Linked DNA regions of Homo sapiens: region 2 is linked to region 1. Evidence: fine-mapped expression QTL. A gene starts in region 1. The other region holds a variant in brackets. All regions are shown on one strand. Distances are from middle to middle. Region 1 holds the start of PDCD6IP (programmed cell death 6 interacting protein). Region 2 overlaps PDCD6IP (programmed cell death 6 interacting protein).

Region 1 (11,083 bases):
AGGTATGACAAATTATTATTCAGCACAGACTTAATCCACCTATCTTGCTTCCAAATGTATCTTCTTTGGATCATCCCTGAGTAACACTTTTTAAAATTCCCTTAGCTACTCACAGAGTTGGCCAAAGATAAGAAATTATTACTTGGAAATGTAATCCCATAGTTTCTTTTTTATGATGGTGGTTGCTGTGTTACTTGGTACACAGATATTTTGGGTTAGCTGATACAAAAGTTTGATATTTCAAACTCTTATCTTTATTGTGGCTTTTAGCTACATTTTTTTTTCTGGATAATTTTAGCCTTTAGCATTATGAAATGTCCTTAATTACATTTAAGCCTTTTTGGTCTGAATTGTCTGATATCAAAAGAACGACCCTGCACTCCTATTGTTTCCATTTGTCTGGTGTTTTAGTTAGTTCAAGCTGTTATAGATTGGGTGGCTTCAACAACATTTATTTCTTACGGTTATGGAGGATGTGAAGTCTAAGAGCAGGGTACCAGCATGATTGGGTTTTGGTGAGTGCCCTCTTACTGCTTTGCATATAGACACCTTTTTACTGTATCCTCACATAGCAGAGTGAGAGAGGAAGCAAGTGCTGTTGCGTCTCTTCTTAGAAGGGCACTAATCCTATTCATGAGGGCTCTGTGCTCACAATCTAATTACCTTCCAAAGGTCCCACCTCCAAATACCATCGCATTTGGAACTGAATTTCAAGAAGTGACTGTTGGGGGTACACATTCAGTCCACAGCACCTAGTATGTCTGTCTATTCCTTTCTATTTAGCCTTTCTGAATCATTTTGTTTTAGGTATGTTGCTTGCATGTACCATAATGATAGTGTATCAGTTAGCTTCTGTTGCATAACAAACCATGCCAAAACTTAAAAACCAGCCATTTATTTAGCTCATAATTCTGTAGGTTGGCTTAACAGTTCTGGTCTAGATTGGCTCAGTTGATCTCTCAGGTGCTTGCTTCTGTGTCTGAGGTCATCTAGGGTGTTGCCTGGTTGTTGGATGATCTAAGATAGCCTTGTTCATATGTCTGACAATTAGCAGACTGTTGGTTAGGGCTAGGAGAGTGACTCAACCACGTCTCTCATAATCCAGCAGGCAAGACGGTACACATGGAGGTCACGGGGTTGCAAGTGCAGTAAGAGAGGACAAACCCTGATGACTGAAGTGTCTGCTTGCATCACAACTGCTAATGCCCCATTGGCCAAAGCAGCTCACATCAACGACCTAGACTTAAAGGGTGCAGAAAAAGACTCCACTTCCTGGTGGGAAGATCTGCAATGTCACACTGCAAAATCATGATAAAGGGAGAGGAAGAGTTTGTGGCCAATTTTATAATCTATCACATTGGGTTTTCTTTTGTGAGTCATTTTAAAAGTCTTTTTCTTTACTTCCTTTTTTCTTTACCTCCTTCTGCTATTCGATTTTTTAACTTTAAGTGACATTCATTGATATCATTTAAATATCTTTTGACTCCCATCAATTGCCTATTTACCAATAAATTTACTTATTTTACTTTTCCTTTCTGATGACTGCAACTTACTATGAAATGGATCCAAAAAGCAAGGTAGATTTATGGGTGGATAGAGGGAAGATTAGATGGACAAATGTGAGATAAAGCATGCATAGTAAAATGTTAATGTTAGAATCTAGGTGGTGGGTAGGTGAGTGTTTATTGCAAAACTCTATGCTGTGGCTGAAATTTTAAAAATGAATTGTGAAGTTGAGGCAGGAGAATCCCTGGAGTCCAGGAGTTTGAGACCAGCCTCGGCAACATAGGGATATTCCGTCTTTACAAAAAATAAACAAATAAATTAGCCGGGCATGGTAGTGTGCACCTGTAGTCCTAGCTACTTGGGAGGCTGAGGTAGGATAATTGCTTGAGCCTGGGCCTGGAAGGTTGAGGGTGTAGTGAGCCATGACTGCACCACTGCACTCCAGCCTGGGCAAAAGAGCCAGACCCTGTCTCAAAAAAACAAAACAAAAAAACAAAGAAAAGAAGAGAAAAGAAAAGAAAAGAAAATATTGGAAGAAAAAGAACACAGGAGCCAGCTTGAGGGTGTTCATATCAGTCAAATCTTGGACAATCTGAGCGTCAAAATAAATAATAATAACAGATTATAATCTACCAAATTAAATAAAAATCTATGGGTCCATGCTGGTATAAACATATAAATGAATAAATAAGGGAGAAAAGAAAATTCTTCTTTCTAGAATAATGTCAGCTAATAGATATAGGCAGAATAATGGATAAGAAAATTACCATTTTGCAATCATCACAGAAATATTAGATTCATGGAAGAATCATCGAAGTATGCTAAAACTAGTGGAAGAAAGTTTAATGTGGAACAGTATGTTTAATAGCCTCGAATTATATTCCCACAAATTAGTTGTTAATTACAAAGGGAAAAGAATAATTTTTCCAACGAGAACCCTGGTGGTTTTTATTCTATCTAATCCCTTCAACCTTTTTTTTCCCTCTATTGGATCTTCCTCCTGCGCCCCTCCACCCTCTCCTTATTCTGGGCTAGTTGTACTTTCTGCTTGCTGCAGAGCTGCCATTTTAGGACTTTCCTTAACTGCTTTCCTAGACCTCCTCCTATGAACTGTTTGCTGAACTACCTTATATAAGGGTGGATTAAAGACCTCTGTAAATATATACAATAGATTAATAGATTGGTCATAGAATTCTCTTGAACTACATTTTGTTTGGCACACAGTATAAGCTCAAAAAATATCTGCTGAATAACTTAGTCTGGTCATCCAAGTATTACCAAAACTTTGTACCATGAAGCTTGTAGGATTTGGTTTTCATTTAATGTATGGTTATAAATATTAAATAAGTGAAGACAAATGAAATTACATACATTTTGTATATATGCTTACTTTTTCTTTTTAAAAATTTATTTATCTTATTACAGTGTTCCACACGTTCAGAGAAACTTCTCTATTAACGAACTACAGACATGATATCTGAAAGTAATCTTTATGCATAGTTTTCTTCTAAGAAACTCAAATGTGTTTTATATGAAGAACCACTAATAACCATTTACTTACTACTCTCTGCTACTAAGTCTTGAACAGAGAGCTAATGTATGCCTAAGGGAAAACCGATTAAAGAAACGTTCTTATATAGCTTCAAAAACGAATTAACAACGATAGTCAGGGTGAAAGGGGAAGGTGCTCCTCTTTAACTTGAAGTGCTTAAACAAATATTGGATTTTAGTGAAAACAGGAGTCTTGAAATGTATCCTTAATGTCCAGATACTCACAAGATAACTTTCAATTATCCAGAATTATTTTTTACTCTATAGAGCAATTCTTCCAAAATAGTGCATAGATTTATTCTCAGAAGTTATCTTATTCAAGTAAAGTGACTCTCATCCAAGAGAGACACTGGTAGCAAAGGGCAGTAGTTAGTTAAATAGCAGTGAAACTGATATTAGAGAACTGCCAACTGATGGAAATTTAATCAGCAGTATATGGAATTGGAATGGGCTTATACAGGGAGTAATTCTGAATATAAGGTGTTCAGCAGTTTTCGTTTCTTTAAAATTTTTTGTACAAAGTGGAAAAAACTTACACACCCATATTTGAAAAATGGGTAATTTTTCTTTCATTCATTATTATTTTTTAAAGTTAAATAAATTAAGGAGACAAATAGTTCTCTATCGCATGTTGTAAAAAATCCAGGGCCCCTGTCCCTTACCATTGCCTTTTTTCCATTCCTTACATGAAGTGTGTCTTCCCAGGTGACACGGGAGCCATCCTTGATGTTTTTTGTTTCATCAAGTCTATTTGGGTGTTCCTATTCTATGCTTCCTCCCCTCTAGATTCCCGCCTCTACCTCATACTCTAGGTTTATCCTGAGTGTGGAGTAGGGAAGTGTGAATACCACATTTACATTTTCCTTTTGTTCTTCACCTTTTCTCTCTTAGACTGTTCCGCTCAGCACCAAAAGGACTTTCTTTCTTGCACTGCAGGAACTTCCCTTACATCAAATCCTTATACTGTTTACTCTCATTTATTGTAAAAATACTACAGTCTTCTGAATCTGACTTCTGTAAGCCTCTTTTCTCCTTAATAACAAAGACTCCTCCAAAAATCATAAGTGCTTACTTTCAGGCTATCGTCTCCATGTGGACTTGAAACACACTATTTTGAAACTCAAAGCTGCCTTCAGCAGGGTTCTCTCCATTCGAAGAGGCAACTATTTCCACTGGTTCAATCAGTGGGGTTAATGATAGGCCCAGAACCAGGAATTTTCAAGAAGGAAAGTCCACTGACTTAATATTCTCCAAATGTACTCGTTATGCTGAGAATACACACTAAGAACATATGGCATTTCATTACATAAATGAAAAACATCATCATAAGCAAGTTTGGAAGCAGTGAAACACACCCTTGGAAGGCATTATAAATGCTCCCTAATATCTGATTCTCCCTTCCCAGTCCCATTGCAGTTTGGTGGAGCCATGTGAAAGGTTCTAGCTAGTGAAATGCAAGTGGAAGTAGGAGGGCTGAGGTAGTGACAAGCTGCTGCATGATGCTACAGATTTCCTCTTCTGCAGTGAAAGTGGAATCTCATGTTGGGATGGCAGAGTTACAAGATCAAAGTGGTCTGGATTGCTCAGACACTGGTTGGAGGACAACTCTAAGCCTGTTCCATATTAGACTTTGTGTGAGCAAAGAACAAATGTTTATTAGTATCTTTGAGTTTAAAATTGAAACTGAGATTTTGAAATTGTTTATTGTCAGAACATAAGCTAGCCAATCTTGACTAATATACCATAATTCTTTGCTTATTGGCCTATTGCCTAATTAGCTGGAGTGCTTGTTGTTGGTGAAAGTGTGTTATTTTGGAAGTAGAGAATATATTTTATATATATATATTTTTTTTTTTTACAAGGGTGAAACTTATTTAATGATATTTATTGAATGCCTGCTATACCAAGTGCTAGAGATGCATCAGTATACAAAACACACAATTTTTGCCCTCATGGAGCTTACATTTTAGTGGGGAAGTCAGATAAAAATTATATCAACAAACAAAATACTTGCAAGTTAGGGTAAGTGTTATGAAGGAACTAATGGCTGCGCTAGAGGTTAACAAGGGAGGGAATCTACTTTAGATAGTATGATGATGAGGAGAGGAGACCTTTCAACTGAGATATGAAGAAAGGGAGAAAACATTCTAGGTCACATGAGGCAAGAAAGATCTTGGTGTGTTTGAGAAACTAAAAAGACCATTGTGACTCAGTGGTAACAAATGAGGAACAAGAGGCAAAATATGAAGTTGCAGAGAAAGATCATCATGTTGTGGCAGGGAGTTTGGTTTTCATTCCAAGCCATCAGATAGTATCACCTTAATCTTCCTTTGGTCAATGCCACAAAACTAACCACATCTATGTTAACTTTCTTTTCTCCGCCATCTGCCTCAACAAATGTCATGTCCCTCATCTTTCTGATGGCTAATCACTCCCTTTGTATCCTCCCTCCTCTGGTTACCCTTTCTCCTCTTTTCATATACTTTGCTTCTTCGTTATCTTCCCAATGGGTCAGTCCTGTCAACCAACCTACAAGACACCACCCATCCCCCACCCTCTTCCATGGGTTATCAACTGGTAATGATTCTACTAACCACTCAGATGTTCAGGCCCCAAAACCAGGACCTATCTTGACCACTCTCTTTTCTTTACTTTCCTATGCAGTTCATTGGTAAATTCTTCAGTTTTAAACTCAAAGATATTATCAGTTTGGTTCACTCTTGCTAATGTTAGCTTTCCTGATTTCGTCTTGATTTCTGAAATGGTCTCATGATTTGCCTCCTTGCCTCCATTCTTTCCTTCCTCTAATTTTTTCTTTATGCATCAGCCAAGGGTGGCTACTTATTTTAACATAGAATAGCTTAATTAAAATAAACAAAAATTTTTATAAATTGTGGTAAAATAGGCCGGGTGCAGTGGCTCACGCCTGTAATCCCAGCACTTTGGGAGGCTAAAGCGGGTGGATCACTTGAGGCCAGGAGTTCGAGACCAGCCGGGCCAACATCGCGAAATCCAGTCTCTATTAAAAATACAAAAATTAGCCAGGCATGTGGTGTGCACCTGTAGTCCCAGCTACTCAGAAGGCTGAGGCAGGAGAATAGCTTGAACCTGGGAGGTGGAGGTTGCAGTGGGCTGAGATTGTGCCACTGCACTCCAGCCTGGGTGACAGAGTGAGACTCTTTCTAAAAAAAAAAAAATTGTGGTAAAATAAACTTTTACTATAATGAAAGTAGTCTATGTGCTGCAAAAGTTACAATGAAAAAGATAGGCAAACACAAAGAAAAAAATACACATTTCCACTTCCAAAGATTACCAATACTAACACCTTAGGGTATAAGCCCACTATTTTTTTAGTTGTACATAAATACATATATGTGCATTTTTAAACCAAAATGAGATGCTGTAACATACTATTTCGTGACTTGCTCTTTTCAGTTAATGATCTTTTCCATGGCAATACAGTTCTATTTTATCCAATACTCAGTCCATCTACATTCATATTTCTTTAATGGTCCTGAAAATGCATTTTATAGACAGTCTGTTCAAACCAGGATCCAATTCAAACTGTTATGTCCCTTAAATTTCTTTTCATAAAGCAGTTGCTTTTATCATGACAAATTGTTGAAGAGATGGGCCAGTTATCCTGCAGAATGTTTCACCTTCTGGATCTGTCTAGTTACTTCCTCTGGCATCATTTAGTTTGTTCATCTATCTGTTGTATTTTTTATAAACTGTGTTAGATGCAAAGGCTTGACAGATTCAAGTTAAATATTTTTGCCTGGAATATACCATGATGATACTGTATACTACATCCCATCAAAAGACAAACTATCCGATTGAGCTACAACGTGGCCTTTAAAAAATGTAAATTATAAGTGTATATAGCTTCCTCTGCATTTATTATACAATACTAAACAAATTCTTCAACTTGGACAACAAGTTTCTGAATGATTTGATGCCTGCTTACTCATCCAACTTTATTCCATCCCATTCTATTTGTTTTTAAAGGTCTTGTCACATGTTTCGTTTCTAGTCCTGAAACATGGTTAAGTGCTTGCCTCCTAGGGCCTCTGCCGCAGGCTTTTGGTTTGGAGGCTCTCCTTTGCCACTCCACCCCTCTCCACTCTTCTCCTCTTCTGATATCAAGCATCTTCTCAAATTACAGGTGTCGTTTTTAATTTATTTAAAATTTTGTTCTTTCTACAAAACAGCAACCAGAGACACAGGTTCATTTTCAGTTAACCTACTCGGAGAAAACCTACTTTATCTTATTTAAATTAGGGTCCTCCAAGCGATCTTAACATCTCCTAAGTCCCAAGCACCCTGTTTTTTTCCTGATACTTTTTCCGTTTACCTTAAGGTCTGTGTCAACCTGACAGTAAGCTGCACGATGGCAGGGGTCTTGCCTACTAGGTTCCCTGTGCACAGCAGCCCGTCAACAGTAGTTGAATAAACATCATAGGTCACAATAACCCTGGGACTGCCTCTTGGGGAGGTAGCCGCAAACTCTCGCAGGTGGCAGTGACACCAGTACTTCTCCGGGGGGTTGTTCGAGTGGAGGAATACTCTTACGTGAAAGTGCTCAGTACACCACTGCGGCAGGAAGGAGGAAGGGAAGAATTCCAGATGGGGAGAAAGTAATATTTTGCAGCACAGTACAGGGTAAACTGGGTCCAGGTGGGCGTAGCCGCCGCGACACCTTCACGTGACCGCGGACAGCTTAAGGACCCCGCATCCAGTGCGCCTGCGCTGGAGCTCCCGGAAGTTGCCGGACCCGGAACGCAGGCGGAGCGCAAGTCTGTCAGCCAGTCAGTCCGCCAGTCCGCCAGCCCAGTACCTCTCTCTCCTCGGCCCTCGTAAGCTGTCCGCGGTCTGTTTGGCCCGAACGGCGGCGGAGGCGCTGATCATGGCGACATTCATCTCGGTGCAGCTGAAAAAGACCTCAGAGGTGGACCTGGCCAAGCCGCTGGTGAAGTTCATCCAGCAGACTTACCCAAGCGGCGGGGAAGAGCAGGCCCAGTACTGCCGCGCGGCGGAGGAGCTCAGCAAGCTGCGCCGCGCCGCAGTCGGTCGTCCGCTGGACAAGCACGAGGGCGCGCTCGAGACGCTCCTGAGGTGGGCGCGGGGCTGGGAGTGGGTAGGTTGTCTGCCAGCCGTCGCTCGCCGCTCCTCTTCCCGTCTCCCCCCTTCCTTCAATCCTGTAACCTGGGCGGAGCCGCCCCGTCCCGGCCTGACCAGGCGCGTAGGTGTGGTCTGCATTCTTTGCTGGTGAGCAGGACCCGCCCTGCAGGCCCGCTGTGACTGCCCGCTTGTCCTGCCTGCACGTCTGCTCTAGCCCTTGGTCGGCGAGGGCTCCGTGGATCAGATACCTGGGAGCAGCAGTCTGCCCTGTACTGATCTCTTTTGCCACATTTACTTAGAACTAGTCTTCACTTTTTTGGGTCTCTAACTGAAGCTTCCCCTTTCGCCCCATTTTTCCATCACTGTCTTTCTTGGGCCACATTTTGATTTCATAATAGTAGTTGCTTGAAGGCAGTGGGGGAAGTGGGGGAATTGGGACACTGGACCAAATGTCTGATCAGCTCATCACATTGTCCACATGAAATGGACCGTCTTCCTCAGTTCAAAATAATCAAATGATAGATGGAGAATTCTGAAAGTTAGGAGCTACAACTATTTGAAATAAAACTCTAGTTACATAGTTGAACCGTTCAAGGTAGGTTGTTTAAAAGCAGTTTGTTCACAAACAGATATATACACAGTAGAGTAAATTTGTTATTTTAGCAAACGCTTATTTAGCTCATGCTGATTTAATGAGGGTTCCTTTCATGATACTTAATAGTTATAAGAACATTTTTTACGATTTTATAGTTAAACATTTCTTTTGCATACCTTGTTAATCTCGTTTTCTCCGTATAGTATATTCTACTTGTTTCACAGGAGAATCACAATTGTATTCCAATCCAAGTAGCAGAAACCCAGGCTAAACTAGCTTGAGCTAAGAAAAGACTTATTCTGCCGGGCGCGGTGGCTCACGCCTGTAATCCCAGCACTTTGGGAGGCCGAGGCGGGCGGATCACGAGGTCAGGAGATCGACACCATCCTGGCTAGCACGGTGAAACCCCATCTCTACTAAAAATACAACAAATTAGCCGGGCGTGGTGGCGGGTGCCTGTAGTCCCAGCTACTCGGGAGGCTGAGGCAGGAGAATGGTGTGAACCTGGGAGACGGAGCTTGCAGTGAGCCGAGATCGCGCCACTGCACTCCAGCCTGGGCGACAGAGTGAGACTCCATCTCAAAAAAAAAAAAAAAAAAAAAAAAAAGTAAGACTTATTCTGCTAACTGAAAAGTCTAGGGATATTCCTTCCTTAGCTTTAGGTATCACTGGAGATCGTCTTGCCTCCGTGATGCTTCCCTCGAAAGCTTTGTTCATGTATTGAGAGGGATGGCTGTAGTGTAATAACAATCGTCCGCAACACTCAGTATCTTACAGAAGGGAGTGCTTTTCTCCTTAGCTCTGGTGGAAGTCCATGGGAGGCTCCTGGGTTTGTTTGCACCCATTTATGATGGTGGGAAATGGGCTAAGTTAATTGCCCTTATCTGAGTCATCCAGCCGGTTTAATTTCTCCTTACCCCATGGATCAAAGCAAGATGAGTCCGGACTGGGGAAGGGTTGGTTCTCCGAAGGAAGGGGTACTGAATAGATTGCTCAGAGGAATTAAGACCCCTTGGTGTCAAATTTTAGAGCTACAACTGTTGGGCTGCAAGGATCATTAGTCTAATAGCATAAGCATTTTTTTTAAAGTTAACCTAGAAATACTTAGCCATTCTTTAGAATTAACATAATTAAACAATTTCAAGGTAATTTTTATGTAGGCATGAATAGCATTCAGTGAGGATTTTCCATTAGTAATATTAAGAAAACATAGTTGTGGTATAATGAGCCCTGTGATAAAAATCTTGTTGAATATATCAAATTTGGTTCCAGCCCTCAGATTTGGGGTCTTCAGAAGCACTTGGTGCATGGGTTTTAAGCTAACAGACATGGGAGGTTGGTGGATAATGGTTTGGATACGGTTCTCCTGTCAACTTTAAAACTTAATTCATTTGTTCCTTCCTTTATTCTTTTTACCAGACTTAAATGTGTGAACTGTTCCTAGGTAGTGGACCTGTTGTAGATATAGTCTCTTTGAAACTAACCATGTTTCTTTAGTCACCTCTGTATAATCCCCTCCTGCCACATTAATTCAACAAATATTAAGTATTTTCACTTTTTGGGCTTCTAGAGGGGTTAGGGTAAGCTTGGAGATATTACTAAAGTTTATAATGGAGGTAGGTACAAAAGTTTTGTAGGTATATACGCTGTAAAATTAGATGTGAATCAGTTGTGTGATGTTCATTCAAATCCGGCAGAATATCTTATTTTTAATAATTATGTTTGGATAATTGTGTAAACTTAACATTAATTTTTTAACTTAATGAACTTTTTAAACTAATGAACTTTGAAAAACAGAGTTTAAACTAATTCCTAAATAATTGAAGCCAGCTTGATAAGTCCTGATATGCAGCTCCATATATTGCTCCAGTGATAGACTTGTTTTCTTATTACTAACTTGTAGGTGTTCTATTAAAATTTCCTAAAATATACATTTATGCATATTATAATAATGAGAATGAGTACTTAAAAACTCATTTGTTCTGGGTGTGGTAGCATGCACTCATAATTCCAGCTGAGGCAGAAGGATCACTAGAGCCCACGAGTTGGAGACCAGCCTGAACTACATACTGAGACGCTGTCTCAAAACAAAACAAAACAACAACAACAAAAAACCCTTTTATATGATACTTCTTCCTTTATAAAGTGGCTTTTACTAAAAATTGATTAGACCTTGGTAAATGGTGACCTAGGGTGATCAAATGGGAACCCTGCTGGTTTTTTATTTTTATTTTGTATTTTATTTGAAGCTCCAGATATACCATTTACCAGCATTGTGTAATTTCTTTTGTGGTGATCAGTTTCTTTAGA
Region 2 (8,000 bases), 64 kb after region 1:
CAAATGTAAGGAGGCAATCATTCTAAGGCCGGGGTCCCCAATCCTGGGGCCTTGGACTGGTACTGGTTCGTGGCCTGTTAGGCACTGGGCTGCACAGTAGGAGGTGGGTGGCAGACAGGCGGGCAGCTGGGCGAGTATTACTGCCTGAGCCCCACCTCCTGTCAGATCAGCCACAGCATTAGATTCTCATAGGAGCGCAAACTCTATTGTGAACTGCCCGTGTAAGGGATCTAGGTTGTGCATTCCTTATGAGACTCTGACTAATGCCTGATGATCTGAGGTGGAACAGTTTCATCCTGAAATCATCTTCCGCTCCCCTGTGGAAAAATTGTCTTCCATGAGACCGGTCCCTGGTGCCAAAAAGGTTGGGGACTGCTCCTCTAAGGAACACTTTGAGCAGAAATTCCAGAACTGCAGGAATATGGTAAGAAAACAGGAAGTGATAAGATGTGAGGTGTCAGAATTCAGGAAAGAAGTAGAAGGGAAGAATAAAACCGTGACATGGGAAAGAGCACAAAGGGCGAATAAACACTAAAGAACACACAGGAACACAGAGTAGAAATGAGGAAATTAAAATGAAACCAAAGTCAAGAAAGAATTAGAGAGAAAATGGGCACAGAAGATCTAATATAGGCAAAACTGAATTTCTCTCAGAAGAAAAACCAGATAGAACAGTTATTTAACGTTCTGTAAACAGAACACTTATTTAATGATACTCAAGAACATTTTCTTAAGTGAAGATTGTTGAAAGAGGATATCATATGGTAGGGGAAAATGACAAGAACTGTCAGCATCAAGGCATATAAATTATTGGCCTTAAAAGATAATGGCAGAATCCTTTAGGCAGTCAGGCAAAACAGTCAAGCCAGTTTATAAAAAGGTGAAAAAAATTAGGCTGGCAGCTCTGTATGCCAGAAGAGAGTGGAGTGATTGCTGTAATCTCAAGGATAGTAAATATGAGCTAAAGATTTTATATCATATAGTAAATACATGCTAAAGATTTTATATCCAGACTGTCTTTTGGGTACATAAAAAGCCATATATTCATTAGTAATAAATATAAAGAGCTGAAAGAGTCTTATACCGATGACCCTTTCAGCCAACTAGATCTTTATTCATCTCTCTGTTCATATTCATGAACAGAGAATGAACATGTTCATGTTCATTCACCTCTCTGCTCATGTTCATGAGAGAAGTTATTTTCTTCTACCTCTAACAAAGAGCAGGTTAGTTGTTTTTAGAATATTTCTACTAAACCTATAAAAAGCAAATAATTAGAATGTTTTAAAAATGGTTCTAAATGTTTAAAAAAAGGTGATTTTTTTTTAGATGGAGTTTTGCTCTGTCGCCCAGGCTGGAGTGCAGTGGTGCAGTCTTGGCTCACTGCAACCTCTGCCTCCCGGGTTCAAGCAGTTCTTCTGCCTCAGCTTCTTAAGTAGCTGGCATTACAGGTGTGCACCACCACGCCTGGCTAATTTTTGTATTTTTAGTAGAGACAGGGTTTCACCATGTTGGCCAGGCTGGTCTCGAACTCCTGACCTCAGGTAATTGGAATTATAGGGGTGAGCCACCCCCCCAGCCTAAAAAAAGATGAGTATTCTCCATATTAGTCTTAATGATAAAAAAACCTAACAAAGATTAATACAAAACAGTCTACAGACCAGTTTCAGTTATGAATATGGATGCAGAAGTCCTAAATAAAGTATTTGCCAGTAATAGTCACCAGGACGTTAAAAAATAATTATTGACCAAGGGGAGGGGGGCATTTATTCCAGTTTCAGTATTCAGTATTTTCACATCAAAGGAAAGATCACAGGTTTGTCTTAATAGATGAGGCAGAAGCATTTGAGAAAATGAGTGTTCTGATACTCAGTAAAATAAGAATAGATAGAAGATAGATGCTTCCGTAACATGAAAATATATATATGTATGTGTGTGTATATATTTCTGCCCAAAACTCAGTATAGTGATTAATGGAGAAGCACTATAAACAGTTCCCTCTGAAGTCAAGAACAGACAACAAATGTCACTGTCAGCACTATTTTTAAATACTATACTGCAGTACCAGCCAAGACAATCACATGAGAGAGAAATTAAAAAATTGGAAAGGAAGAAGTAAAACTAGCACTATTTACAGACATTATGATTGTACAACTACTTGAAAACCCAAGAGAACCCCAAAACTCTGCAAATAATAAAATTATTATTACTGAAGTTGTTGATCATAAAAATAATTTGTAGAAATCAGTGGCTTTCATGTAAATAAACCTATAGAGGATAAGATGAAGAGACCCACTTACAGTAGCAACAAAAAGGATAAAATATAAAATATAAGTTTGTCATATATGAGACCTATGTGAAGAAAACAGTATTTCAAAAAGAAGGCTTGAGCAAGTTAAAAAACATGTTCTTGGACAGGATGACTCAACTTCATAAAGATGTCAATTCTAAGTTAACTTATGCATCAACTGGGCGTGATGGCATGCACTTCTAGTCCCAGCTACTTGGGAGATTGAAGTGGGAGGATGGTTTGAGCCCTAGAGTTCTAGGTTGTAGTGCGCTATGATTGTACCGTAAATAGCCACTGTACTCCAGTCTGGGCAACAGTGAGACCCTATCTCTAATAACAAACATAAATAAAGAAATAAACATATGCGGCCAGGCGCGGTGGCTCACGCCTGAAATCCCAGCACTTTGGGAGGCTGAGGCGGGCGGATCACGAGGTCAGGAGATCGAGACCATCCTGGCTAACACGGTGAAACCCCGTCTCTACTAAAAATACAAAAAACTAGCTGGGCGTGGTGGCGGGCGCCTGTAATCCCAGCTACTCGAGAGGCTGAGACAGGAGAATGGCGTGAACCCGGGAGGCGGAGCTTGCAGTGAGCTGAGATTGCACCACTGTACTCCAGCCTGGGCAACAGAGTGAGACTCTGTCTCAAAAACAAAAACAAAACAAAACAAAAGAAATAAACATGCATTCATATGCTTTTGATATGCAAACATGCTTTTGATATGCAAACATGCTTTTGATTAAAAAAAATCAGCAGCTTTTCATTTGGAATTAGACAAGTTGATCCTAAAGTTCAAGTAGAAAAAGAAACAAGGTCAGCCAGGAAAACAATAAAAAGAGTAGTGAAGGAATACTAGTTCTACCAGATATTAAGGTATATAATACCATATTTAATTAAAACACAGTGGTACTGGTACATGATTAGACAAAGACAGAATAGAAAATAGAAATAGATTCAAATACATACGTGAATTTAGTGTAAAAGATCTTCAGCCAACCAGAAGAGGTGGACAACTGCCCAGCCATTTAGAAAATAAAAGTTATCTTTATACCAGAGTAAGTTCTGAGTGGACCAAACTTGAAATTTGTAAATGAAATATAAGGTGTAAAATAGAATGGAGGAGAATTCCGTAATAAAGCTGGGATGAGCAGGATCTAATAACTCCTACTTAAAATCCAGAAGCCATTAAAAAAAAAGAAAAGAATAAGTTTCTCATAGAAATATGATAAACAGAGTCAGGATATGACAAATTGGGAATCCAATATTTGAAACTTATTCACAGGCAAAAGGCTAATTTACTTTATTTAGAAAAGAACTCCTAGAAGTGAACGAGAAGAAAACCCAATAGAAAACTGAGGAGAAGACGCAAACAGAATTTTGCAGACAAGGAAATACAAATGGCTCTTAAATAAATGAAAAAAAATGAATACCCTCATTCATTATAAAATACAAATTAAAATTAGTCTGAAGTAATATTTTTCAGATTGGCAAGAATCTGAAAGTTTGATAATATGCTTTGTTGTCACATGTTGGAGAAATAGATTTCATACATTGCCGTGAGAATACCCAATGGTGCAATCCTTGTGTTGGGCATTTTAGCTGTAAAGAATAATAAGACTGCAAATTCAAACATCCTTTAATCCAGCCATTCTGTTTTTGGGAGTCTATTCTGAGGATATATTAGAATATGCTAGAAATGACATATTTATGAGCTTATTCATTTCTACATTGCAAATAGCAGTAAAAAAGTAGAAACAAAGTGACCAGGGCTGGTGAAATAAAGCTATACTTGTATAGTGAAATGCTGTGCAGCTATTTTAAAAATCAGGGTGTTTTCAATTTACTGATATGGAAAGATCTCCAAGATAGTTATGGTAAAAAGACACAGAACAGTGTGTAGAGTATGTTTTGTGTAAAAAGGAAGAAAATAACAAATATAGAAATTGGCTTGTTTACGCACAAGGAAGCTCTGGATATTCTAAGGAAGAAAGATTGGAATATCGTCATTTAAAATATTTTATATTTC[A/G]TATATCTAATTTAAAAATCAGGTTTGTTGTAAACAAGTATATATTTTATTTACACTTGTCAAGTATTTTCAGCTCAGTGATTGAAAGGTGAATGAAAGATGGAAAAGTAGGCCATATAATAATATTAGCTTTTGAATATCTGAGAGTTTATTTTGTTAAAGTCGTTGTTAATACTGAAGGCCAAAATCCTTTGAAATCTTACTGGATATAATGTATACCGGAAAAGTATACATAAGTGTGTATCTTGTTGAATGTTCACAAACTGCGTACACCCAGGCAACCAGCACTTAAATCAATACACAGAAAATTCTCAGCACCCTAAAAGCATTGTTAATGCATCCACCCAGTCAGTCAGTCTTTATCTTTCTTTTCCAGGGCAACCGCTATCCTAACTTGTAAGAACATAGATTACTTTCTCCTGTTTTTGCATTGTATATAAATAGAATCACATATTATGTACTCTTCCATGACTGGCTTTTATTCTACATTATATTTGTGAGATTCATCAGTATAGTTGTGTGTATTTGTAGATCTTTTATTCTCATTTCTGCATATATTTTATTATGTGAATGTACAAGTTATTTATTCTACTGTTGAATATTTTGAGTAGTTGCCAGTTTTGAGCTTTTATAAATAGTGCTGGCATGAATGTTGTAAATCACTGCTGTCCAGTATTGCTGGTAGCAGTAAAAATATGGAAACAAGTCAAATGTCTGGTTCTGGTTAATTAAATAAAACTACATCTATATGGTGAAGTACTATGCAGTGACATATGCAATTGAAAATGTAAAATTTGTAGTAGCCGTAGTTAAAAAAAAAAAAACAGGTGAAATTAATTTCAATATTTCATTTAACCCAGTATGTCCAAAGTATTATTTTAACATATAATCAATGTAAAATTACAAATGAGAGATATTTTACTTTTTTTCACACTAAGTCTTAGAAATCTAATCTGTATTTTTTTTTTTTTGTGAGATGGAGTCTTGCTCTGTCGCTCAGGCTGGAGTGCAGTGGCACGATCTCGGCTCACTGCAACCTCCGCCTCCTGGGTTCAAGCAATTCTCTGCCTCAGCCTCCCGAGTAGCTGGGATTACAAGCGCCCACCACCAAGCCCAGCTAATTTTTGTATTTTTAGTAGAGACGGGTTTCACCATCTTGGCCAGACTGGTCTTGAACTCCTGACCTCCTGATCCACCCGCCTCGGCCTCCCAAAGTGCTGGGATTACAGGCGTGAGCCACCGAGCCCGGCTTAATATGTATTTTATACTTACAACACATCTCAATTCAGAGTAGCCACATTTCAGATGTTTGATAGTCATGTGTGGCTAATGGTTACTGTATTAGACAGTACATGCTTTTGGTGAGCATGTTATATGCAGTGCTGTTGGGTATATATCGAGGTCAAAGGATATGTGTGTATGCTCAGTTGATATTGTCAAATAGTTTTCCAACGTGATTGTACTAATTTATATTCCTCCTAGCAATATATGAGAGTCCTGGTTGCTCCACATTTTTGCCCTTAGCTATTCTGCTGGGTTTGTAGTATTATCTCATTGTATGATTTTAATTTTTCATTTTCCTGATGACTAATATGTCCTTTTTATATACTTATTAGCTGGAGGCTTTGCTTTTTAATTTCTGTTTTCATTGAAATCTTTCATCAGAAGTTTAAAGCGTTTAAGAAGAATGAATATTTTACTCTGAGCTTTACTTTCTTTTGACTAATGGTTTGAATACTACTGTCAGGTTGTTGGGCATAGTACTAGTGGCATTTTATTTTATATCTTTTTGCTCTTTTACATTATTGATTTTATTTAATAGCATTGATTTATATCTTTTATAAGTGGCTAGGAAATTATCATTTGCTCTATAAATGTGTTATTTACTGCAACCATCCCTAGAGTTTATCAAAGGAAAAGAAAGGTATTGTGTTAAAGCTTTATAATATACGTATATATTTTAGATATTTCAAAATCTGGCCTTTTAGAATTTTGATATTGATTAAAAACTTATTTATTTTATAAGCAGTTATTTACTTAAGAAGTAGTTTTGTTTTTTTTTTTTGATGAATGTATACTAGTTTTCTTTATGTCTGGAGTGACTGGGGCCCTTCTTGAGAGGGAAGGTTGGATGCGGACAGTGTGGGGCTTTGCTGTTAATTGTTAAATCAGGGCAAAAGGTACTGTCTCAGATGTTTTGGGACATGTCATATTTACTTCTTTGTGTACGTTAATCAGTGCAGTGAAAAGATGATTGACATCATGTATTACATGGAGTGCATTTTACCTTAGGTATTGTTTAGTGTGATTTTGGGATAAATTTCAATTTACTGTTAGAGGAGACAGAATTTTCTAATATTTAATACTAAATTGTAATAGTATTTTCAGCAATATATCTTTCATGAGTTTATCTTAGTGACAGGTGATGTGTTATCTTTTAATATAAAATATTTCAACGCCACATTTCTTTGAATATCTTCAGGAAGTTTTTATCTAGAAATTTGCATAATGGTTTGCATAAAAGGTTAGCCTTTTCACCTGTTTTATTTTGTATAAACACTGATATAGTGATTAAAACATTAGCTACATAACTATGAGTCACTGTAGTTTTCTGATAACTTTTAGATAGATGATGTTAGGAGTTTTTTAAATCCAGGGACTACCTTTTATTAGAGGGTGGGCAGTCTTTTAGGATTACTTGCCCAGTTTGACACGTTTCTTACTCTAGCTGTAACTGTGATCTCTGAAAATGTTTACTTTTTCCCCCAGTCTTCAGAAATATAAAAAAGATACAACTTCATTTTATTAAACAATAGGAAGAAAGAGGATTTAGATTCTAGTCAAGAATAAAAATGTAGTATATTTTGTTTTTTTCAGTTTTTGTTATATTGATAAATAATTATACATATTATGGGGTACATGTGATACTTTGATCATGAATACAATGTGTAATAATCAAATCAGGGTAATTAGGATATTCATCACATATTTGTGGGGCACATGTGATATTTTGATACATGAATACAATGCATAATAATCAAATCAAGGCAATTAGGATATTCATCTCAAACGTTTATCATTTCTTTGTGTTGGGAACATTCCAAATCTTCTAGCTATTTTGAAATATACAATAAATTATCATTAACTATCATCACCCTATGCTGCTATTAAACACTAGAACTTATTTATTCTCTCTGACTGTATTTTTGTACCTATTATCCACCCTCTCTTCATCCCCACCCCCTACTCTTTCTTGACTCTAGTAACCATCATTCTACTCTGTCTCCTTGTTTTTAGCTCACACATATGGAGGAGAACATGCAATATTTGTCTTTCTGTGCCTGGCTTATTTCACTTATCATGATGGCCTCCAGTTCCATCCATGTTGCTGCAAATGACAGAATTTCATTATATTTTTTATGGCTGAATAATATTCCATGGTGTATATATACTACACTATATCCATTTATCTGCTGATGGACACTTAGGTTGCATTCATATTTTGGCTGTTGGAAGTGCTGCAATAAACATGGGAATACAGATATCTCTTCAGTATATGGATATCCTTTCTTTAGGATATATACCCAGCAGTGGGATTGTTGGATCATATTGTAGATCTAGTTTTAGTTTTTTGAGGGACCTCCATACTGTTTTCCATAGTCACTGTACTAATTTGAAATGTA

Evidence for each region. PIP is the estimated chance that this variant, and not a neighbour inherited with it, causes the effect.
Region 2: its variant is the best candidate, but not a certain one, in a credible set for the expression of PDCD6IP in whole blood (INTERVAL, PIP 0.57).

The regions. Positions count from the first base shown.
Region 1 is chr3:33,790,766-33,801,848 of GRCh38, forward strand. It overlaps PDCD6IP (programmed cell death 6 interacting protein), which reads left to right and starts at 7,865. Exons shown (of 18, transcript NM_013374.6): 1 at 7,865-8,172. The coding sequence starts at 7,964. It overlaps PDCD6IP-DT (PDCD6IP divergent transcript), which reads right to left and starts at 7,754. Exons shown (of 2, transcript NR_183731.1): 1 at 7,630-7,754; 2 at 2,879-7,257. RefSeq lists enhancers at 7,732-8,081, 8,028-8,561.
Region 2 is chr3:33,855,873-33,863,872 of GRCh38, forward strand. The region is part of intron 15 of PDCD6IP (programmed cell death 6 interacting protein); the gene reads left to right. Among named protein-coding and RNA genes, the nearest start is that of PDCD6IP, 61 kb to the left of the region's middle. The variant A/G (reference allele first, on the strand shown) is at 4,318.